Homo sapiens: one gene and its partners. The gene in region 3 interacts genetically with the main gene of each other region. Each region holds a gene or a part of one and is shown on either strand. Other genes may lie near its edges.

Region 1 (3,500 bases), on a different chromosome or scaffold from region 3:
GGTACGTGCCTGTAGTCCCAGCTGCTTGGGAAGCTGAGGCAGGAGAATCGCTTGAACCCAGGAGGCAGGAGTTGCAGTGAGCAGAGACTGTGCCACTGCACTCCAGCCTGGGTAACAGAGTAAGACACCATCTCAAAAGAAAAAAAAAAAAAAAAAAAGAACAAAAGGGAACAAGGATAGGAAGCTGTTTTTTGAATTCAGGTATAGTGTGGCAAGCTGTAAAAAAAGCAAGAATTTCACAACTCACCATTAGCTGATTTTAAATCAGGGAGGATGTGATTCACAAAGAACTCAGTTAGGTTTACAAGTTCATTTGCTTGTGTAATTCCATGCTGAAAAGCAAATTCATAACATAGTAAAATAACAAAATACCTGTATATATCTATCACATTAGAAATTCAGGCAATTTTAGAAAACCATGTTAAAATGGAGATGAACACTTCAAAATACAAATTGCTTATGTATAAAATGAGACTGTACTGGCTGTGTACAGGAGCTCACGGCTGTAATCCCAGCACTTTGGGAGGCCGAGGCGGGTAGATCACTTGAAGTCAGGAGTTCAAGACTAGCCTGGCCAACATGGCAAAACCCCGTCTCTACTAAAAACACAAAAAATTAGCCAGGTGTAGTTGCATGCACCTGTAATTCTAGCTACTCGGGAGGCTGAGGCATGAGAATTGCTTGAACCCGGGAGGCAGAGGTTGCAGTAATCTGAGATGTTGCCATTGCATTCCAGCCTGGATGACAGAGCAAGACAACGTCTCAAAAAAAAAAAAAAAAAAAAAAAAAAAGAGAGAGAGGGACACTTCAAAACATGAACTGCTTAGGCTAGGCATGGTGGCTCATGCTTGTAATCCCAGCACTTTGGGAGGCCAAGGCAGGTGGATCACCTGAGGTCAGGAGTTCAAGAACAGCCTGACCAACATGGAGAAACCCCATCTCTACTACAAATACAAAATTAGCCAGGGTGGTGGCGCATGCCTGTAATCCCAGCTACTCGGGAGGCTGAGGCAGGAGAATCACTTGAACCCGGCAAACGGAGGTTGCGGTGAGCCAAGATCGTGCCATTGCACTCCAGCCTGGGCAACAAGAGCGAAACTCCGTCTCAAAACAAAACAAAACAAAACAACAACAACAAAACACAACCTGCTTATGTATAAAATATAAAATAAGACTATACTGTCTAGGCACGGTGACTCACACCTGTATCCCAGCACTCTGGGAGGCTGAGGTGTGAGGATCACACGAGGTCAGGAATTTGAGACCATCCTGACCAATATGGTGAAACCTTGTCTCTACTAAAAATACAAAAATTAGCCAGGTGTGGTAGTGCACACTTGTAATCCCAGTTACTTGGGACGCTGAGGCAGGAGAGTCGCTCGAACTCGGGAGGTGGAGGTTGCAGTGAGCTGAGATCACGCCATTGCACTCCAGCCTGGTGACAAAGTGAGACTCCATCTCAAAAATATAAAAATGTAAAATAAGACTATACTAATAGACAATAAAGAAACTTTCCTCAATTAAAGAACAGCTAAGTTTAAGTTAAGCATATTTGATACAGCGGGTCTCAGCTAAGGTAACAAGTGTGGCCATCTATCAATTTTCTGGTCTATAAGAAACTTAAGTGCTCAATACATCAACATAAAGCCATCTTCAGAGATTATATAAATCTTAATCAGAATAGGTTATCTGGCAGAGTAAGCTCTATTATCAGAGACGTTATTTCTTTTTGACTTGTGTGGGTGTCACTGATGTCTGTTTTAGAAACAAAACCACATTAAAAATATTTACCTTCTGTGTTTGGGCTTTTGATGCCAAAGATGTCACTAGGTAGATGGCTGCATCTTTGTGTTTCCAGTTGACAGATGGATTTTTTGCGTATTCCTGCAGCATGGAATTAACATAACCAGAGAAGATTCCTGTCACAGGTCCCTCAAAAAACTTGCATAATCCTCGTACCAGATCACAAGCAGCCCTGCGTCTAGTATCAATATCTATGAAATGAAAAGAAAATATATTATGGGGAAAAAAAACAACCACCAACAAGCTGATCCAATTTATAAGAAAACAAATTGCCTGGAATAATTTGGCTACGATTGTAAAACGGAAAAAAAAGAACGAAAAACAAAGGGCCACCCAATAGCTATCAGCAACACAAACAATGAAAAAAACATTCCCGCCCCCAAGAAATACAAAATCAAAATGAAACTAAAGAGGTCACAGAATCACAGAATTTTGATAAATACTATGTAAGAACAGACAAATGATTCAACTTTTGATATTTTCATTCAGGTCATATAAGAGCTTTTTAAGACAAGTTGAAGAAAGACAACAGTTCTCAATGAAAGCCCGCTGAAAAAACACTCTTATTCTCAATCCCACTTCTCCCATTTACTAGAAAGAGAACCACCTTAAAACTGGCTTGCTAAGAGACTAGTAACTAAAAAACCAAGATACACACCAGATCCTTCCAAATCTCTCCTTATGTACTCCTCAGAATTATCTTCAAATGCTTCTTCATCAGCAGCTACAAGGAGAGATGATATTTCAGATAACACTCCAAAAGACGTCACTGTACTTTACAGCTGAGAATGCAGAAGAGTATGTAAAACTGCCTTGTTCTACAGCAAAGAATTCGTTCCCATCAGATGACTACTTCATATACTCTTAATCATTATCTAGAGCAGCAAATGCTACCCTGAAAGGTGAGGTATTAGGTAATTCACACAACTATGAGATAGGCTCACTTGTTCTAATGTGACAGTTTCCCCAGAATTGGATTATACCTGCAACTGTCAAAAATGTTAGGGATCAGTATCAGAATGCTAACTTTTAATTTCACCAAATAAGAACATTAAAATACCAACAACCTAATTTTAATCACTATTATTTCATTAAAGTCATTTCAACAACAAATAAGTAGAGTGGACAATGTCAGAAATGGCCGGCATGGTGGCTCACGCGTGTAACCTAGCACTTTGGGAGGCTGAAATGGGAGGATCGCTTGAGCCCAGGAGTTTGAGACCAGCCTGGTCAACACAGCGAGATCTCATCTCTATTTTTATCATATAAATTAAAAAAAAAAAAAAGTCTACACACACACACACACACACACACACACACACACACACACACTGCAGTTGTATGATCATGTCTCACTGCAGCCTCCACCTCCTGAGCTCAAGCAAAACTCCCACCTAAGCTGCTTGAGTACCTGGGACCACAGGCCCATGCCACCATACCCAACTAATTTATTTATTGTAGAGATAAGGTTTTGCCATTTTGGCCAGGCTGGTCTTTAACTCCTGGGCTCAAGTGTTCCTCCCACCTCAGCCTCCCAAAGTGTTGGGATTAAAGGTATGGGCCACCACACCCAGCCAGAAGATTTATCCTTTAAACATATTTTTATGAAAACACAACAGGAAATAAAATCTCACGCTATATTGTCCTTAATTTCCTTATTTTGTTCCAGATGTAATTTGAAAACCACTGATCTAATA
Region 2 (3,500 bases), on a different chromosome or scaffold from region 3:
TTTATAAAATGAAAAAACACCGGGAGTAGGGAAGTGTTTTGCTACTCGTATTACAAATAAATAATTAATTTATCTAAAGGGCTCCTCCGAGCCAATAAGAAAAAGGCAAAAAAACCAAACCAAAAAAGACAGACTGTCCACAGAAAATAAGCACATACATGCAAAAAAGAAGCATTTCATAATGATTAATGTTTCAAATTGACAATGCAATTCTAAATTTGTATATACCTAATAACATAAGCTCATGACATATCTCAAATTTGAAATTTTTCATAATCCACCATAGAATTCAACTTGTCACTGAAAAACAGCAAATTGCTATGGCCCAAAGGCATATTCTCTCAAAAATAAAATCATTAGAAATACCAGTTGTCTATATATAACCACATAATGAAAACACTAGTATACTTTTTCTAAGTATGCTCTGACTTACAACTTCAGAAAGATCTAATTTTTCTTTAGTTGTTGTGTCCTTCACAATTTGAGAGTAGATACTCTCTAACACCTTAAAATATTCTTGATTATTATCTCTCCTGGTGTATGAACCACATTGATAAGCTACTAAAGTGGAAAAGCTAACATTGACATTAGATGAAATTCCTAAGAGCATCTGCTTTTTTATGTTTCCTATAAATTTGGAATATTAGAATACTGCAGCCATTATCATATAACCTGAGGTTTTGTAAATTATGTCAATACATGTCTACCTTCCAAAATTTTTTTCTGAAAATTTTGTCCACCACACTTTTATAAGTGATGGGACCGGGTTTCAAAAATCATTTGTGAAATAATATCAAAGTCTTTGTAGTTTTTTTCTAAAACTTTGTAATTTACAGAAAATAACCAACTCTTACCTACAGAAATTGGGGATAGGAAATAATACGTACAAATTAACTTGCATAAATTATGAAAGGTCTTAGAGACATCTAATGATTAAAAAAATCTGTCTGATGAATATTAAAAATAGGCTGGAGGCAAACAGAAAAAAGAGAAAAGTGAAAAATCCTAGACAAGCAGTCTTTACATTTTCAAGTTAATTGTTAATTGTCACAAAAATTTTCATAGCTATCTCAACTCTTTAAGAGATCAATGTCCACTCGAAAGTAAGCCAAGGGAAAAAAACTATACCTCACATATCTTACTATTCCATTCCCAAGTTCTTGAAAGTCAAAGATACCAGTACTCAGATTCCCCAAGATCACCCAGAAGCAAAGAATCTGGCCTCTTCGTCTCAGGCTTTTTAAATCCTAGACATACATTATACAAGGTCAAGATGGGCCTGAATACTCATATTTTCTCTATTTAAGGAATTTCCAGATAACACAATTCATTTTCCAAATCTATTTCTTTTTAGGCTAACATTTCAGAGCAAGAAGAAATAAAAATTTTAAGATATAAATAATAGAAGAGTTGAATTTACATTGCTATCTTCAACAAAAAATCCAACTTTATATTTACTGGAAAACATTTCTCCTGGAAGTCTGCAGTGATTCATACCAAATATATATGCTTCTAATTGTCATATGAAAATACAACTTAAAACATATCCCAGCTGGGCACAGTGGCTCATGCCTGAGTGTAATCTCAACACTTTGGGAGGCCAAAGTGGGAGGATTGCTTGATCTCAGGAATTTGAAACCAGCCTGGGCAATGTAGTAAGTCTTCAACTCTACAAAAAATTTTAAAATTAGCCACGCATGGTGGTATGCCCTGGTTGTCCCAGCTACTCAGGAAGCTGAAGCAGGAGGATTGTTTGAGCCCAGAAGTTGAAGGCTGTAGTGAGCTATATTCACACAACTGCACTCCAGCCTGGGTGACAGAGCAAGACCCTGTCTCGAAAAAAAGAGATAAATAAAAATTTCCCCAACTACTTGCATATCACAAACATACATACTTTTACTGTAACACATATACTTTAAGCTCTAGTTTTTAATGAGACCAAGACAAAACAATAGTTGCTAGAATTTTAGACTGAAAGGTATTTTGCTAAATATTAATGCACTTCATAAAATGTGTTCCATAACACATTAGTACTGCATAATCCTGCTAAAAAGGATGATTCCGTACCCAAAAAATTTGGTAAATGTAGCAAGCTACATCCACCTCCCTCCCACTGCTTTCAACAATCACAATGTCCCTGAAAATATTAAAGGTTGTGAGAAATAGAAATAAAACTGTTTCACTTTGACTCACCATTTGCTATTTCATCCCTTCTCCCTTCGTTTATTAAGAGGTAGTGTTGGCAAATGGTAAAATACCTCTTAACATCTATGGAAAAACATTTGTTCCCCTCCCAGACCACATTTTGGGAAATGCTACATTCAAGTACCCTGACATTTAAAGATATATGCAGAATTTGGGTAATTTTAACTGGTATATTTACTATGCTTTGCATAACCAATAACTCATAGAATGTCTTAATTCCCAGAAAACAGATATTTAAAATACCAAATCCCTAAACTAAAAAAGTAAAAAACATTTATCTTGATTGACTCAAAGAGTACATACCTATATTTTGCTTTTTCATGAACCCAGACATACTCAGGGTTTTTCAAACTCAAGCGTGCAAGGTCCTTTACAGATTTAGTTTGTGTTGCTGAGAAAAGTAAAGTCTGACGTTTCTTGGGGAGATTTTCAATAACAGCATTCATGGTATCAGCAAAGCCCATATCCAAGATTCTATCTGCTTCATCAAGAACTGAAAAAGGAAAATGCAAGTTGAACTATCATATGTAAAATATACATTAGGCTAAATGCAATGGGTATCCTGGATTGGATCCTAAAACAGAAAAAGAACATTAGCGGAAAAACTGGTAAAACCTGAATAAAGTCTGGAATTTATATGATGTAGCAATGTTAACCTTAGTTTTGATAAAAGTACCATGTCATGTAAGACATTAACACCAGGGGAAGGCTGGGCACAGTGGCTCAGGCCTGTAATCCCAGCACTTTGGGAGGCCAAGGTGGGCAGATCACAAGGTCAAGAGGTCAAGACCATCCTGGCCAACATTGTGAAACCCCGCCTCTACTAAAAATACAAAAATTAGCTGGGCGTGGTGGTGCACACCTGTAGTCCCAGCTATCGGGAGGCTGAGGCAGGAGAATCACTTGAACCCATGAGCCGAGATCATGCCACCGTACTCCAGCCTAGCAACAGAGCGAAACTCTGTATAAAAAAAAAAAAAAAAAAAAAAAAAATTAGGGGAAACCAGCTGAAGGATAATGCAGGAACTCTCCACTGCAACTTTCCTACAAATCAAAAATGTTCAAAGATAAAGTTGATTTAAAAATACACATCAGGTAGTATTCCCAAGCAAAAAAGAAAAAGTTCATTTAAAAAAATGCCAATTTGACCTTTCAAGTTATTAGAAGCAGGTGTTAAAAACCTTGGCATGGTCTAATACTAACGTGCCTAATTTCACATATAAGCGTACATACATTCTTCTGATTTTTTTAAGTCTACTTTTACTTTCTGGGTTTAGAGCCCAAATGCCAAAATG
Region 3 (3,500 bases):
ATAAAATTTAGTAAAATTCTAATAACAATGCAAAATACATCTCCTTTGACATTAAAAGAGGTGAGTCAAAAATTCGTGTGCACCTATGTTATAAAATCTAAATAAATTATCTGGTCTCTTTCCCAATTAGTTAAGATAAAGAGATATGTCACTTTCAATAATACTTATAATTTGAGGAATTTACTTACATTTTAGGTAATTTCTAATACCATTTTTTTATTATCGATACGGAAGTACGCTGGGTTTTTTGCTCTATATTTGGTAGTGGTGATTTTTTTTCAGTATCAATCTTCTCAGTCAAGATTAGCCTTGAAAAATTAAATATAGAGTTTTTTGGATTTTGATTTCCCTTTAAAGACTTCCACAGAACTAGATGTTTCTTCTACTTTGTTTTAATTTAAGGCAGAAAAATATGTTTTGTGCTTCACTGTTGAAGGATGCTTTTTTAGAGACAAGCAAACTCAAAAGCAGGAGAACCACCACTCTTGTCAGCCCTGCAGTCCACCCAGCCCAGGAAAAAACGATGTCAACTCAAATTCCCCCTTGGCAATGAAGTTTTCCTGACCATTCCAATTAACACTCCTCTCTAGCTTCCCTGCATTCTTTTTGTACTTATCATAGCTTACACTTGAACATTTAACTCTTCTTTAATTTTTTAACATTTGTTAGTTTTATTTCTCCCACTAGATCATAAGCTCAGGGCCTAGGCCTCCATCCTCTAAGGGATGACAAGGTCTTTACAGGATCCAGATTCCATCCCACATAACAACCTGATCCAGAAAGAGTCTGAAAACATCCTGGACAAGCATGAGAGGATTTAAAAACAAAGGGAACCTTCAAGTTTATCCAATTCAAGCCTCTCATTTTAGAGATAAGAGGGTGAAGGACTAAAGCACTTCTAAGAAACTTGTCTTACACTAATTAGTTGGAGGCAGAGCAGGAAGTGGAAAGCGGATCTCTTGACCTGAGTATTCTTTGTAGTACACTAAGCAAATTCTGCAAGAGAGCAGGACCATGGCTTATTGACTCTCGTGGACTGGTGTGGGCCAGTGCTTTGCACTTCAAGTAACAAACTCAAGCCACTCAAGTGTGGTCTGGGGACCAGCCACAGCATAAGCTGCGAGCTCATTAAGACAGACAGGCAGAATCTCAAGCCTCACCCCAGACCTCCTGATTCTGCATTTAAAACATAATCCCCAGGTGATATGTATGCACATTTTGGAAGCACTGAGGCATGTACTGCAATCCCTGACTCAAAGAGACAGCAAACTGACTACATTAACAATGGTTCTCAATCCAAGCTGCACATTAGAACCACCTGTGGAGTTTTCAAACTGTTGCTGGTGTCTCACCTCAGACCAATTAAGTCAGAATCTACCTAGCAGATTCCAGCACAGCAGCCAGAGTTGAGAACCACTGCACTCAATTCCTTGGAGACCCTCTTTTGAACTCAATGAACAGAGTCAATCAGGTAATCTGCAGCTACCTCAGGAGAGAAGTCCACAAACAACTCAAGATCTTCATGAACACCATAGCTCATCTGGAGTTCTCCAAATGCTAAAATCACCTCTGTTAATGCTCTCTTCTTGGAGCTTTGACCATGCTGAGACTGCCTTTGAAGTGGTCTTTACTACTGCCCGAAAAACTAATTTCTGGCAACTTGGCCAGTCTTGACCTGGCCCTCTGAAACTGCCAGTAGTCTTGTAACTTAAAATTGCTCCAAGTCCAACTACACTTCAGCTATTAGGTCTCCTTGCTGTCCATTCACCACAAAGCATGATGCTTCACTCTGTCACTGTAGAAGAATAATTAATAAGAAATGTCCAGCTGTTATAACCCAAACAACTTTCATTATAAAGAGAATACTTCCTCACAGCCAAAACTCTTCCAGTTATCTAAATAGAATGCCCTTCACCTAAGACCAAAATAAGAAATATTTAAATGAGAAAAAAACCCCAAATATGCTAGATGAAAATATAGGAGAACACATATTTTTTAATATGATAAAAACCCAGAAGTCATAAAAGACTGGTAAATTCTACGGCATGCAACGAATTCTTAACACCATAAAGTCAAAAGACATATCAAAATGTGAAAAAGCATTTGTAGCTCATATCATAGAAAAGAACTAATTTTTTCAATATAAAATAGCTTTAATTTCCTCAAAATATAAATAGTTCCACCAAATCAACAGGAAGGGGTCCAATAGCCCAATAAGAAAATGAGCAAAGGATACACAGATAGTTTACTAAAGAGGAAATACATGTAGATAAAAATATGTTCAATGTTAGCCATAAGAAAAATGCAAATTAAAAACTGTGATAACATTTTTTACCTATCAGATTGGCAAAGATCAAAAAGTATGAAAGGGAATGTATAGACAAAGACATGGATAAAACAAGCAGGCACTCTCATACATTGCTGGGGCAGGGGAGTTAAAATTAGCATAAGATCCCTGAAGAGCAGGTTGGCAAAAACTATCAAAATTTAAAATGCACACACCTTGGATCCAGAAATGTTACTTCTAATAATTTACCTTATGGATATAGTCACATATGTAGTAAATAAAATTCATACAAATGATTATTAACATATTATTTTAATAGTATAAGGTTGGAAACAACCTAAATTTCCATCAGTGAAGATTGGCTAAATAAATTATTTTATGTCCAAATAATGGGATAGTATGTAACCACAAAAATAATGAATGAGTTCTGTAAATATTGAGTAATGACCAAGGCTGACCATTAAGTTATTTTTTAAAGCGCAGAACAGTATGAATATATGCATGCTACCATATGTTTAAATGTAACTGTACAGGCTATGTGTACACTGAATATATCCGGAAAGATACCCAAGACCATGGTATCACTGGCAACCTCTAAAGGTTTGAGTAAGGAAAGTAGAAGGGTTAGAAAGGAGACTTAACTTTTTAATGTAAAACCTCTTTTGTGCCTATAAATACATGGCACTTCATTTTAAACAAATAATTAATTGCCCTTTGCACATATGCCTCCAGGCCACCACATTGCCAGAGTAGATTCCAATCTTAAACTTCTAAGGAGAAAATGTCCTATAGGTCTTATAGAATCCAAGAGAGACAAGCAAGTTTTCTAGTGTAGTGCCGATTGCATTTTGGATGGAGATCTAAGGATTTCCTGATAGAACACGTTTGGGTCTGTTTTAGTACAAGCTGTCATAGGGCTATGCCACCCAGCAAGCTATGTTATGCCTGCTGGAATCCAGCTAACAAAATAATTATAGGGCTTTTGTTGCTGAGTTTAACAAGATCTTCTCTAGACACATCTAAAAGAAAATGGGTGGTTATCTAAGGGTCTAAGCTCTACTTCAGAATAAGGCATTTTATATACGACTTCAACTCAAGTTAACTGCCCAGAATGATCAACTGCAGGAAGGGCTTGACAAGTCCATAAAGGAGGAAGACAACTGAAGTTTCTAGGTCAATGCCAGCACTGATCAAACAAGGCCTTCAAGGTCAG
Region 4 (3,500 bases), on a different chromosome or scaffold from region 3:
ATACTTGAGGGGAGTGACCGGCACTTCCCTGGTCACCATCTGATGGATTGTGTGCTTTCTGAACAAATAGAGGGTGCTTTCTCCTTGAGGCAGGGCCCAGGGTTTAAGAGTCATCAGCTCAGTGCTCATTTAACATTTATTGAGCCCATACTTTGTGCCAGATGTTGTGCAGGGTTTTGGGGATGCGGTGGTGACCAAAACAGTTAAAAATCCCTGCCCATTTGGAGCTTGATCTTAGTGGGGGAGGCAGGTGGTAATAATATTAAAAATGCCATGTGTGATAATTGATTTGAAGGGAAATAAAGCAGGGTAAGGGTACTGTGGCCAAAGTAGGCCCTTCTGGGGAACTAACATTTTATCAGAGACCAGAATGCAGTGAAGGAGCGAGTGAGCCATGCACATGTCTGCAGGAGCCAGGCAGTGGGAACAGCACGTGGTAAAGATTTAGAAGCTGGACTGTGTATGCTTGGTGGGGAAGAGCATGGGGCCCAGCATAAAGAGAATGAAGTCAGGGAAGTCAGCACAGGCCAGATCCTTAGGATGATGATACTCAATGTGGGCTGCACCTTGGAGTCACCTGGAGAGCTTTAGGGGAAGACCTTGCGCCCAGAACAATGAAATCAGAATTTAAAGCCTAAAGATTTTAGGCTTTGATTTCAGGCTTTGTAAGCCAGGGAAAGGACTTTTTATTTCATTTTGGATGTGGTGGAAAACCATTGGAGGGATTTGGGCAAGGGCATGATGAGATCTTACTTGCTGTTTTAAAAATAGCATGTATTAGCTGCTGTGTGAAAAGTGGACTGTAGAGGGAGTAGAAGATTAAAAGTAAACAACTTTTGGTTGTTTGGGAGTTTTGAAAATGAAACCGTTCATTTTTAAAGATTAAATTAGGAATGGCTGTTAAAAGACACATTTTTTATCTTTAATACCATTAAGGTGCATGAAGGGTTCGTAGGACAAGATCATAATGTATCTTTACAAAAAACATGAGCAAGGCTGGGCGCGCTGGCTCACGCCTGTAATCCCAGCACTTTGGGAGGCTGAGGCGGGCGGATCAAGAGGTCAGGAGATTGAGACCATCCTGGCTAACACGGTGAAACCCCTTCTCTACTAAAAATACAAAAAAATTAGCCGGGCATGGTGGTGGGCGCCTGTAGTCCCAGCTACTGGGGAGGCTGAGGCAGGAGAAAGGCGTGAACCTGGGAGGTGGAGCTTGCAGTGAGCCGAGATCGTGTCACTGCACTCCAGCCTGGGTGACAGAGTGAGACTCCGTCTCAAAAAAAAAAAAAAGCAAGCTTATGATTGAATAGATTACATCATGTGAGAATGTGAGATAATTTTAAACCACTAGTTTTCCAACTATTTTTTTTAACTTGTGTGATTTAGTACTTCTGAGTTTTTGAAACCAAATCAGAGAAAATATTGAATCTGTTAGCACCAGAGTTCTGTTTTAAACGTTGTTTTGTGCTAATGGTGTTTGTTGTCCTGAACTGGTAAGAATAAAGCCTGTCTGAGTCTGTTATTTCTTAAACATTTCGATCTTACTGACAAGTCGCAAACTACTTGTAAAGTGCAGCCTATCCTTAAATGACAGTTTGTTCTGCTTTTTCTTGTTTTTCCCCTGAGCTGAGAGGGACTTCTTTAAGCTTGGAAGCAGGGAGATGAGTTAGGGCTGACATCATCCTGTATTCCCCTCTGTTTTGGGGCTGGGGTTGACACTTTTCTTCCAGCTCCAAGGTCAGGAGTGGGAGAGTATGAAGACGTTTGCAGAGTCTAGGGGGCCCTGTTGTCACAGCATGTGCTCGTATGCAGGGCTCACTCTTCACAGTAATTAATATTGACATGGAATGAATTCTGTGAATCTGCTATGCAACCAAGGAAACCAGGATATTAACAGTAACCTACATCTATTCATGTACTCCTCCCCTATCCCAACCCCATATTAATATCTCCTTCCCATTCACCAATATCATGAGTTTTACATTTCTCATTCCCTTGCTCCTTTTCTTGGGCAGTATGATTGTGGCTGGGTGTGGTGCCTGACACCTGTAATCCCAGCACTTCAGGAGGCCAAGGCAGGAGGATCACTTGAGCCAGGAGCTGGAGACTAGCCTGGGCAACATAGTGAGACCCCCATCTCTACACTATGGGAGTAGTGGCACACACCTGTAATCTAGCTACTTCAGAGACCGAGGCAGGAGAATTGCTTGAGCCCAGGAGTTCGAGGCTGCGGTGAGCTGTGATTGTGCCATTGCTCTCCAACCTGGGCGGCACAGCAAGACCCTGTCTCAAAAAAAAAGCACTAAGCAAAAAAAATTATTATGATTTTAACATTTATTAGTCTGTTGTGTATAACTGAAGGTCATTTTCATGATCTTGATTGTGAATGTCTTCTATTTTATTTGCCCATTCTATTGATGGACATTTGGGTTAGTCTTCACTTTTCTTTTGCTGTGGACATTCTTGGAAATGTGTCCTGCTGTACACGGGCACATGTATTTCAGGTTTCTCACCTGAGAGGTATTGCTGGGTACAAGGTGGTTTAACCTTTTAAGCTTCATTGCCCTGACTCCTGTTTTGTTTCCCCCACAGGATTCAGTCCCCGTGGGGGTGGCTTTGGCGGCCGAGGGGGCTTTGGTGACCGTGGTGGTCGTGGAGGCCGAGGGGGCTTTGGCGGGGGCCGAGGTCGAGGCGGAGGCTTTAGAGGTCGTGGACGAGGAGGAGGTGGAGGCGGCGGCGGCGGTGGAGGAGGAGGAAGAGGTGGTAAGATTGGCTAGGGGTTACAGAGGAGGCCTTCCTGAGGTGGGGAGTGGGGAGGGCGGAGATTCAGGATCTTTCTCTCCTGTTGTACCTCTCCTTTATAGGTGGAGGCTTCCATTCTGGTGGCAACCGGGGTCGTGGTCGGGGAGGAAAAAGAGGAAACCAGTCGGGGAAGAATGTGATGGTGGAGCCGCATCGGCATGAGGGTGAGTGAGGAAGGCAGGGAGCCGGCTGAGCTTCGGGGCAGGGAGAGGCTGGGGGTCCTCACCCCTGCTCTGATCCCCTCACCCAGGTGTCTTCATTTGTCGAGGAAAGGAAGATGCACTGGTCACCAAGAACCTGGTCCCTGGGGAATCAGTTTATGGAGAGAAGAGAGTCTCGATTTCGGTGAGAACTGGGCCCCTGTCCAAGCCACCAGGGTCGCAGCTGAGGGTGTAGCCAGTAGTCTGTGTCTGCCCTCACCATGTGTCCTGCACGTGACAGCTGGAGGATTGTCATAATATGTAAACCACACTGTCTGCTCCCTCATCCGCCTTCTGTGACTCCCCACGGCCTTCCAGTTAGACTCCTGAGTCTTCACTCAGGCCTCCAAGACCCTGTGCATTCCAGTTCCCCCTCCCTGCCCCCTGGCTTTGTCTCCTTCACTAACTCTCTGACCAAGTGTCCTCCAGCCACCCTGGCCTTGCTGTTCCCACTCCCAGCTCTGTGGGAGGCTGCGTCCTTATCATCTGCTTCTCCAG
Region 5 (3,500 bases), on a different chromosome or scaffold from region 3:
GTTAGGCCTGGCAATGTTAGAGATACATAAAGAGAGCCTTGTTTTATCACTGGGTGCGGTGGCTCACACCTGTAATTCCAGCACTTTGGGAGGCTGAGGCGGGCAGATCATGAGGTCAGGAGATCGAGACCATCCTGGCCAACACGGTGAAACCCGTGTCTACTAAAAATACAAAAATTAGCTGGGCGTGGTGGCGCATGCCTATAATCCCAGCTACTCGGGAGGCTGAGGCAGGAGAATCACTTGAACCAGGGAGTTGGAGGTTGCAGTGAGCCGAGATCGCGCCACTGCACTCCAGCCTGGGTGACAGAGCAAGACTCCGTCTCAAAAAAAAAAAGCTTGGTTTTCAATGGTTCTGAAAAATGCTTTAATACAAGTGTAGAGTGTTAGTCAAGTTTTGCACTTGGATAAACAGCCTGTGAATTTATCACATTTCTAGTTTATAATATGGGCTTTCAGAAGTTATATGAACATTGTTTTGACGGGAGAATTCAAGCTGGATGCTAGAGAAGGATCGTGAGAACCCCTTCATTGGAGGAGTGCTATGAAATTATTTGATCTTGGAATTTTTTTTTTTTTTTTTTTTTTTTTTTTTGAGACAGAGTTTCGTTCTTATTGCCCAGGCTGGAGCTGGAATGCAGTGGCACGATCTCGGCTCACTGCAACCTCTGCCTCCTGGGTTCAAGCAATTCTTCTGCCTCAGCCTACCAGGTAGCTGGGATTACAGGCATGCGCAACCATGCCCAGCTAATTTTTGTATTTTTAATGGAGACGGGGTTTCACCATGTTGGTCAGGCTGGTCTTGAACTCCTGACCTCAAGTGAACTGCCTGCCTCAGCCTCCCAAAGTGTTGGGATTACAGGTGTGAGCCACTGCGCCTGGCCTGATCTTAGAATTTGAAGGAGAGACTAATATTTCATGGGCAAAAACAATGAAAAGTTACCTTTCTGTATTCTAATACTATAGAGGAGTGGGATTTATTTAGAATGTTTTAAGTATCTTGGGCAGTCCAAGAGTGCGTATCACTTATTTTTCTTTTCCTTCTTTCTTTTTAAGTGGAAGTTCACTGATGTTAGAGATCATAGGTGGCATTGCCTACTTTTTACATAATTTTATCATGTTTAGTGATCTGTCAGAAGGGCTGTGGCTGTTTGCAGTTTTGGCTTAAGCCATGCATGGGCTTTATAGGAGATGTAGTCTTCACAGTGAGTTGTTATTTGTAGCTGTGTTTTTGTTTTTGTATAGCTTATAGCAATGCAGTGTGCTTTTTATTAACATCATTTTCTTTTTCTTTTTGCAGTGATTATTTATTCAAGTTACTTCTGATTGGCGACTCAGGGGTTGGAAAGTCTTGCCTTCTTCTTAGGTTTGCAGTAAGTTGAAATTGAAATGTCTTTACAATTAATGGTACAATTAATGCTATGTATGTTTTCTAGGTAGATAAAATTAAACAGTTTTATTCAGAATAAGTTAATTCTTCCAGAATTTATATATTTAAAGACTCCAAATATACATCCCCAGTGGTATCTTGGACTGTTAAATAGAAAAATATTGTTGCTCTTAAAAGAAATTCAGTGAAGTATGGTTATAAAGTCAGAATGTCTAATACTTTTGGTCAGAGTCAAACAGCAGTTCCAATATAGGCAGCAAGTTAAAGGGGTAGTTGGTGGCCTGTGTTGAAAGCGACTTGATGAAAATAAATCTTTAAATTAAACTTTAGTAGAATAAGAAGAAAAAGCAGAGCCAGGTGACGCAGTGGATCATGCCTGCAGTCTCAGCTACTCAGGGTGCTGAGGGTGGAAGGATCACTTGAGTCTAGGAGTTTTGAGACCAACCTGGACAACATAGCATGACTCTGTCTCTGAAAAAAAAAGTTAATAAAAGAAAAAGTAGGGTCTTGGACAAACTTCGTTGGCCAATGGCATAGTTCTAAATGCTGAAGCTGACAGATAAAGGACTTTTGACTTAACAGAATCCACAGTGTCCTTCATAGTCTTTATCAACTACCTTTAAATTTAGCATGTTTCCTGGCCAGGTGCGGTGGCTCACGCCTGTAATCCCAGCACTTTGGGAGGCCGAGACGGGCGGATCACAAGGTCAAGAGATCGAGACCATCCTGGCTAACACGGTGAAACCCCGTCTCTACTAAAAATACAAAAAATTAGCTGGGTGTGGTGCCACACGCCTGTAGTCCCAGCTACTCGGGAGGCTGAGGCAGGAGAATCGCTTGAACCCAGGAGGCGGAGGTTGCAGTGAGCTGAGATGGTGCCACTGCACTCCAGCCTGGCAACAGAGCAAGACTGTCTCAAAAAAAAAAGAAAAAAAATAAAAAAACAAATTAGCATGTTTCCCTTCTAGAGATCATTGTTTCTCAGAGCATGGACCAAAGACTCCTGGGGGTTACCAAGACCCTCTCAGGTAGCCCATGAGGTCAAAATATCCTAATAATACTAAGATGTTAGTATTTGTAAGGAAATATTTACTTGGTAATAATACTAATATAAAAGATGTTTGCGTTTTTCAGTGATGACATTGGCTCTGGTACAAAAGCATGTGGGTAAAATTGCTGCTGGCTTGGTACACATCAAGGCAGCGCTAAGCTCCAAATTGTACTCATGGTGATGGCATTCTTTACCTCTGTGCCCTCACAGGAACAAAAACAAGCCGTGCCATTTTTATTGAAGATTGTCCTTGACAAAACAGTTAAAATGATTAATTTTTGAAAAATGTTGATCCATGAGTATTCCTTTAAAAATATTTGTGAAGAAATGGGAAGTTCACATAAAACAATGTTTTTTTTTTTTTTTGAGACAGATTCTGGCTGTGTTGCCAAGGCTAGAGTGCAGTGGCGTCTGGCTCCCAGGCTCAAGCTGTTCTCCCACTTCAGCCTCCCAAGTGGCTGGGACCTCCCAAGTGGATGCGCCATCATGCCTGGCTGATTTTTGTATTTTTTTGTAGTGACAAGGTCTCACTGTGTTGCACAGGCTGCTCTCAAACTTCTGAGCTCAAGCGATGCATGTGCCTCAGCCTCCCAAAGTGCTGGAGAAAGCACTTTTTACTGCATACTGGCTAGTGTGTTGGTTATTTTGGAGAAAAGAAAAGCATTTGTAGTTTTTTGAGTTGTAAGCTGAGCTAACTGCTTTATTTTTTTCTGTGGAACACCATTTCTTTTTTTTTTTTTGAGATGGAATATTGCTTTGTTGCCCAGGCTGGAGTGCAGTGGCACAATCTCGGCTCACTGCAACCTCCGCTTCTCGGGTTCAAGCAATTCTTCTGCCGTAGCCTCCCAAGTAGCTGGGATTATAGGCACCTGCCACCAAGCCCAGCTAGTTTTTGTATTTTTAGTAGAGATGGGGTTTCACCATGTTGGCCAGGCTGGTCTCGAACTCCTGACTTCGTGATCCGCTTGTCTCAGCCTCCCAAAGTGCTGGGATTACAGGCGTGAACTACTGCACCTGGACATTTTTTTTTTTTTTTTTAACTTGAAAGAACAGCTAACA
Region 6 (2,564 bases), on a different chromosome or scaffold from region 3:
CTTGGAGCTAGATGAGGTGGAAGACTTCCTTGGAGAGCTGTTGACCAACGAGTTTGATACAGTTGTGGAAGACGGGAGTCTGCCCCAGGTGAGCTTATCACGGGCACAACTGCAGTCTCCCTACCTGTAGTCTTTCTTCTCCCCAGCTGTCTGTTTTGGGCCAAGACTCTTGACTATGACTCTGTTGCCTAGAGGAAAAAGTGTAGCCTTTCCAAACCCTGCCTTTTCTTTATTTCTATACATCATTCCCATCCAGGCCTGTTCCTCAGCCCCATCCCAAGGGCAGGTCAGGCCAGTCCAGGTCCATTTTCACCCCCGCTCTGGTTACCATTGCTCCCCAATAAGATTACCTTCCCTTTTACATCTTATTTCTTTCAAAGCCCAGTTCTAGAGGATTCCCTGCTAGTTAGGCTCTCTTTTGATGCTTTAGGCCTTCATTTGAGCCCTTCATATGTGGTTGCTTCATTGGTTAATTCCTTGGGGAGGAAAGAGCTCTGTTCTCTTCTGGAAAAATCCAACCTACTCCCCACTGTTGCTTCAAACACGTGCTGTTTGTATAGTAGATATCTGGAAAATCCAAACTGGTTGAATATTTTCTTGGTAGGTGAGCCAGCAACTGCAGACCATGTTCCACCACTTCCAGAGGGGTGATGGGGCTGCTCTGAGGGAGATGGCCTCCTGCATCACTCAGAGAAAATGCAAGGTCACAGCCACTGCACTTAAGACAGCTAGAGAGACTGATGAGGATGAAGATGATGTGGACAGTGTGGAAGAGATGGAGGTGAAGTGGGTGCCCCCTGGGTTGGGGGATACAGATGTTTTCAATTTTCTGGAAGAGCAGCTAGATTCACAGGGAAGTGATAAGGGGATGGTGGTGGTTGGTGGTAGTAGTATTATCCAGAGAGGGCAGGGAACTTTCCTAAAGTTACACAGCCAATCCTGGAAAAGCTGGAGCAGAGCCTGGGTCTCCAGTGGTCAGTGTATTCAGCTCTCTTTTAAATCTCCCCTCCAGGTCACAGCTACGAATGATGGGGCTGCTACAGATGGGGTCTGCCCCCAGCCTGAACCCTCTGATCCAGACGCTCAGACTATTAAGGAAGAGGATATAGTGGAAGATGGCTGGACCATTGTCCGGAGAAAAAAATGAGTGGGGATGATTGGAAATGGCTTTGGGCCCTTATTTGCTGTTCTAAGAGTTGTCTGTAGGGGTTTTTTTTTTGAGGATTGCAGACCTGTGGACTGGTTACCCCATCTCCACCCTCTCCCCTGTTCCTCTGTCTGGCTCCCTCCAGGGCAAGGAAAACCTAGGGTCCTTGGTCTTGGGGGTGGGGGGACCTTTTCCAGCATATTCCCCTGGGCCTTTAGTTAACATCCGAGTGACGAAGCCGGGTTCCCCAGTACAGTGTCTTTTGGGTGCGGTCATTGTGAGGAAGGGGATGAGTGAGTGTGGGTGTGGCTGGAGGAGGAGCTAGATGCCGGTGGACAGTGGGCAGGTGGATTTGGGGAGGAGAGGATCAGCAGCAGCAGCAGTACTCAGTGATAGGGGGCTGGCTGGGTCAGGAATGGTGAGATGAACATGCAAGTGGAAGAGAGAATAGTTGAAAATGTGAATGAAAGTAGCTCTGGAGCCTCTCCCTTACCCCACCCCACACACACGCAACAGCTCTGTACCCCTGCCCAGAACTTGGAACCTCCCAGGAATGCTGCCTTCCTTCAGCCCAGCCTCCAGTCCTGGGTTCCCTCAGGAATTCGAAGACCTTGGCTAGGTGGTGAGCTTGGAAGAGCTGGGCTTTGTTTTCTGTCTCCTCTAACCTCTTTCCTTACTCCTTATCCCATCCCATTTGAGTTCAGGGGTGAGGCTTAAGATCTTAATAAATAATACCTTACTGCTTAATCTGTGGCTTGACCTGTGAGTAGTAGCCTTAGAATCAGCCTTCTGGGAGCTCAGCTTCAGAGTTTACAAGGGAGCAGTTTCTGGGCCCACCCTAGCAGCCTGGTACTTTGGACAACCAAACAGATGAACGAACGGAGCACAGCAGTGCTATGAAAGTTACTGTAAGCCTGAAATAAACTGTATTTTTCTTAAAAAAAAAAAAACACACAAAAAAACACAAAAAACTGAGTATCCATTGTCCTCCCCCCTGTTTCCCTGTCCTGCCCGCTGGCCCTGCCATGGGTCTGGACGATAAAATACTGGGTAGCCTTGGGGCCGGGTAGAAGCTGTAAGCCATGGGAGAGGCAGGAGAGGTCTAGTTGCCACCCCACGTGGAGTTGTACGTGTGAAGACACTGGCTGAGGAGGCAGGGCTGGGTCGGGGCCCCAGGGTCAGTGGCAGAGCTGGCACTTGAATCCAGGTCTCCTACCTCTGGTGCTTTGTGGGGAACTGGGTGGAGGCAGGATCTGTGGTAGGGTATTGAGGGATGAGGGAGAAAAACGACCTAATTCAGGTAGGACTGGCAACGGCTCCCACCCTCCCTGGGGACAGGGATTAATAAAAATTGACATCACTGTAGGAATATATTTTTTAAAAGCCCACGTTTTGTGAAAAGATGAATTAAAAAACC
Region 7 (3,500 bases), on a different chromosome or scaffold from region 3:
TATCTCCTAAAGCATTCTTGAAAAAATTAACCATCCGTATTTATTATCCCTGTCATTTAGTTGTTACTCATGCTATACATTCAACATGAAGCTTTAAGCTTCATTTCTTCTAGCATGGATGCATAGAAAGCAGCTGCTTTTGGAGGAAGCTATGAAAGTAAGGTTGGGTTCAACTCTGAATGTAATATTGGAAGCACAGGTCTGTAGCCATTGGGAAAAAGGGCATTTAATTTTTTCCGCATAGATTCAGCTACTAATACTGTTTAATCTTCACACTAAACTAGTTCACTACATCTAAAGGTATGATAAATAAACCAACATAGAGCAGTGTTCTTCATGGCTTGTAACAGAATTAGTGGCAATTTTTGTAATTGAGAATATATTACAGCAATACTGCTTTTAATAATGTTTCATAGTATTAAGAAATTTAATGGTTTGTTTTAAAATTGACTTGTTAATAAAAAGTAGATTAAGAAAAGTGTTTCTAAATTTTTTTGTTTGTAAGGACAATAGGTTAACTTTCCCAAAGTAAAAGGATTTTGTCTGCAGTAGTTAATAGATCATGTGACAAAATCAGTTGCGTAGAAATAACTAGCAAACTTATTTTGTATTATAAATGAAGAAACAAGATTTAGAGCTTAAAGCTGGTTAAGGAGTCCTTTTGGTCTCTAAAAGTCCTATGTCGTTAGTTCAGTCTACTTTTCGTTTACCACCTCCTTGGGGGTCTTATTTCAAAGGAAAAGGAGTAGTAGTAGCAGCGAGCTGCTATAGTGGAAAACATGATTTTTAGTGTTAGACGTCTTAATTTGATTCTTGGAAGCTCTCTCTAGTCATTGCTTAAGTCCCATGTACAAATATGACCTGTCCTACAAGAGATTGGAGGGTTAGTTATGAGGTTTAAAAGCACCTATTACAGTGCTTGATAGGTAGAAGGCACTCAGCTTAAAGGGTACATTTAGCAGTATAATGAAAATGATTTAGCATATGTGATACTCATTGCTTAAAATTAAAAAAATTTTTTTTTTGCTACTCATAAAATATGCACTAATGACAAGAAAAATTTATTATGCTAATTAAGCTTTTAAAGTCAACTGGGAAAAAAAGCTGTAGGTAGGTTTTTTTTTTTTTAAAGGAATGTGTAACTTGGGGGAGGGGAAGAAATTATTTACAAGGGTGACTTTTAATCTGTAGACAGAACTTCTGCATACATGGTTAGTATAGTAGGATATTTAGCAGTGTAACATTAGGACTACCCTCTACCCTCTGTTATCAGCATTTTTCTATTTTTAGCCAAGTAGACAGCTAGAAAAAAGATGCGGGAAGAGTTGGATGTTTTCTCCAATATTGTGTTCTGTTAAAGATCTTGAACTCTATTGCTTAGCAACTAAAATGCTTTCACCATTCAGTTAGTAGTACAAGGGAGATGCTAGGTTTTCTCTCTTTAGTTTGCTTTTGTGTCTTTTTTTTTTAAACCCCTGCTGGGGTTTTAAGTTTATAAAGAACATTATGTAAGAATGGTGGGATTAGAATAAATCAGAATGCAAATACTAGAAGTAGCATCAGAGAGTAAAATTACAACTAACAGGAAAGAATATTATTTATGTAGCGATTGATGTGAGTGGTGATAGTGTGGGAAGTATTTGATTCTGTGTAGAATGCTTATCACTTCAAAGCATCTGACAAAATGGTAACTTGACCAAGTAACTTTTACTGTGTGAGGATCTTTGATACAACTTTTCCTCTAGTTAGATAAGGTTATCTAGCTAGATATTCTCAGGGAGAAGACCAAAACACTGCTAAAATGTGCTTTGGCCCTAGATAAGCCACATCATTATTCTTTCGGCCTTCTGTCATTTCTCATATGACACATTATGCCCATCAGTCCTTTAATGAAATCAAATAGAAATGTGTATGATTGTATTTTAAAGTATACACATTAACTCTTGTAACCACAGACTCACAATGGAAGCAGGCGTCTGATCTTTTCAGGCAACCACAGTGGTTCTGGTGGGTTTCTGGGTAGAGAACAACCATATAAGTTATTGAGTGTGTAGCAGTGTGTTTTCCTGATTGATGTATGGGATAGTCATGAATGTGGTATTGTATTTCCTACCTGAGGAAAAGGTCATGATTAAAATAAAGCATCAAAGCCAGGATAAGCATATAATTTCTTTCTTTTTTTTTTTTTTTGTAATGAGACAGAGTCTCACTCTGTAGCCCAGGCTGGAGTGCAGTGGTGTGATCTCAAATCACTGCAACCTCCGCCTTCCGGGTCCTGGTTCAAGCAATTCTCCTGCCTCAGCCTCCTGAGTAACTGGGATTACAAGTACGCCCCACCATGCCCAGCTAATTTTTGAATTTTTAGTAGAGACGGGGTTTCACCATGTTGGCCAGGCTGGTCTTGAACTTCTGACCTCGTGATCCACCCACCTTGGCCACCCAAAGTGTTGGGATTACAGGCGTGAGCCACGGTGCCCACCCGAGCATACGATTGTTTTAAAAAAGACTAGAATAAAAGCCAAGCTAAAGATTATAAGGTATCTTTGTCAGAAATGGTTGTGAGAGTGCTTCCTACCCTGTTTTTGATGCTTTATTGTTTATAACCATAGAATTAAACCCATGATAAAGTAAAGTATAAGAGAAAGATAACTGACAGATTTTAAAGTCATCAAACTTTTTTCTTGCTCTGTCACACAGGCTGGAGCACAATGGCTTGATCACAGCTCACTGCAGCCTTGACTTCCCAGGCTCAATCTTCCCACCTCAGCCTCCTGAGTAGCTGGGACCATAAGTGCGTGTCCCACCACACCTGGCTCATTATTAATTTTTCTTTGTTGCCCAGGCTGGTCTTGAACTCCTGGGATTACAGACATGAGCCACCACACCTGGTCCAAACTTTTTGCTTACAACTTTTAATAGAAATAGGTAAAAGAAATAGGAAGGATCTAATTGAGTTATAAAACAACCTTTAAAGATACAAAAGTGAAAAAGATTAAGCCATTGCTTTTTGTCAATAGAATTAAAAGCTGTTGGTAAAAATATTAATGTATGAAAAACTTATTGAAATGAAAAAACTATATATATATATATATATATATATATATATATATATATATATATATAAATAAAATGTCGACATGGCTGGATCTTAAAAACTGTCAAATGAAAAAAACTAATTGCAGGAAAGATTTTTTTTTTTTTTTTGAGAGGGAGTCTCACGCAGTCAACCCAGGTTGGAGTGCACTGGGGCAATCTTCCTGATTCTTGGGGAATCTTGGCTCACTGCAACCTCCGCTCCTGGATTCAAGCGATTCTCCTGCCTCAGCCTCCCGAGTAGCTGGGACTATAGGCGCACGCCACCATTCCCGGCTAGTTTTTGTATTTTTAGTAGAGATGGGGTTTCGCCATATTGGTCAGGATGGTCTTGAACTCCTGACCTTGTGATCTGCTCACCTCGGCCTCCCATAGTGCCAGGATTACAGGCGTAAGCCACCGTGCCC

The links.
Region 1: of ATG10 (region 3) and CSE1L, changing one enhances a phenotype caused by changing the other (phenotypic enhancement), as found in Homo sapiens cells (one large-scale study listed by BioGRID).
Region 2: of ATG10 (region 3) and DDX10, changing one suppresses a phenotype caused by changing the other (phenotypic suppression), as found in Homo sapiens cells (one large-scale study listed by BioGRID).
Region 4: of ATG10 (region 3) and FBL, changing one suppresses a phenotype caused by changing the other (phenotypic suppression), as found in Homo sapiens cells (one large-scale study listed by BioGRID).
Region 5: of ATG10 (region 3) and RAB1A, changing one enhances a phenotype caused by changing the other (phenotypic enhancement), as found in Homo sapiens cells (one large-scale study listed by BioGRID).
Region 6: of ATG10 (region 3) and TSR2, changing one suppresses a phenotype caused by changing the other (phenotypic suppression), as found in Homo sapiens cells (one large-scale study listed by BioGRID).
Region 7: of ATG10 (region 3) and XPO1, changing one suppresses a phenotype caused by changing the other (phenotypic suppression), as found in Homo sapiens cells (one large-scale study listed by BioGRID).

What each region holds. Positions count from the first base shown.
Region 1 is NC_000020.11:49,073,812-49,077,311, reverse strand, and holds part of CSE1L (exportin-2), read right to left. Parts: intron 2,528-3,500; coding exon 2,462-2,527; intron 1,995-2,461; coding exon 1,792-1,994; intron 333-1,791; coding exon 248-332; intron 1-247. UniProt on the Homo sapiens protein: Export receptor for importin-alpha. Mediates importin-alpha re-export from the nucleus to the cytoplasm after import substrates (cargos) have been released into the nucleoplasm.
Region 2 is NC_000011.10:108,678,569-108,682,068, reverse strand, and holds part of DDX10 (probable ATP-dependent RNA helicase DDX10), read right to left. Parts: intron 2,699-3,500; coding exon 2,509-2,698; intron 1-2,508. UniProt on the Homo sapiens protein: Putative ATP-dependent RNA helicase that plays various role in innate immunity or inflammation. Plays a role in the enhancement of AIM2-induced inflammasome activation by interacting with AIM2 and stabilizing its protein level.
Region 3 is NC_000005.10:82,052,023-82,055,522, reverse strand, and holds part of ATG10 (ubiquitin-like-conjugating enzyme ATG10), read right to left. Parts: intron 292-3,500; exon of another isoform or gene 189-291; intron 1-188. UniProt on the Homo sapiens protein: E2-like enzyme involved in autophagy. Acts as an E2-like enzyme that catalyzes the conjugation of ATG12 to ATG5. ATG12 conjugation to ATG5 is required for autophagy. Likely serves as an ATG5-recognition molecule. Not involved in ATG12 conjugation to ATG3.
Region 4 is NC_000019.10:39,839,880-39,843,379, reverse strand, and holds part of FBL (rRNA 2'-O-methyltransferase fibrillarin), read left to right. Parts: intron 1-2,592; coding exon 2,593-2,763; intron 2,764-2,864; coding exon 2,865-2,966; intron 2,967-3,052; coding exon 3,053-3,147; intron 3,148-3,500.
Region 5 is NC_000002.12:65,102,607-65,106,106, reverse strand, and holds part of RAB1A (ras-related protein Rab-1A), read left to right. Parts: intron 1-1,300; coding exon 1,301-1,373; intron 1,374-3,500. UniProt on the Homo sapiens protein: The small GTPases Rab are key regulators of intracellular membrane trafficking, from the formation of transport vesicles to their fusion with membranes.
Region 6 is NC_000023.11:54,443,404-54,445,967, forward strand, and holds part of TSR2 (pre-rRNA-processing protein TSR2 homolog), read left to right. Parts: coding exon 1-88; intron 89-604; coding exon 605-781; intron 782-1,012; coding exon 1,013-1,147; 3' UTR 1,148-2,564. UniProt on the Homo sapiens protein: May be involved in 20S pre-rRNA processing.
Region 7 is NC_000002.12:61,528,357-61,531,856, reverse strand, and holds part of XPO1 (exportin-1), read left to right. Parts: intron 1-3,500. UniProt on the Homo sapiens protein: Mediates the nuclear export of cellular proteins (cargos) bearing a leucine-rich nuclear export signal (NES) and of RNAs.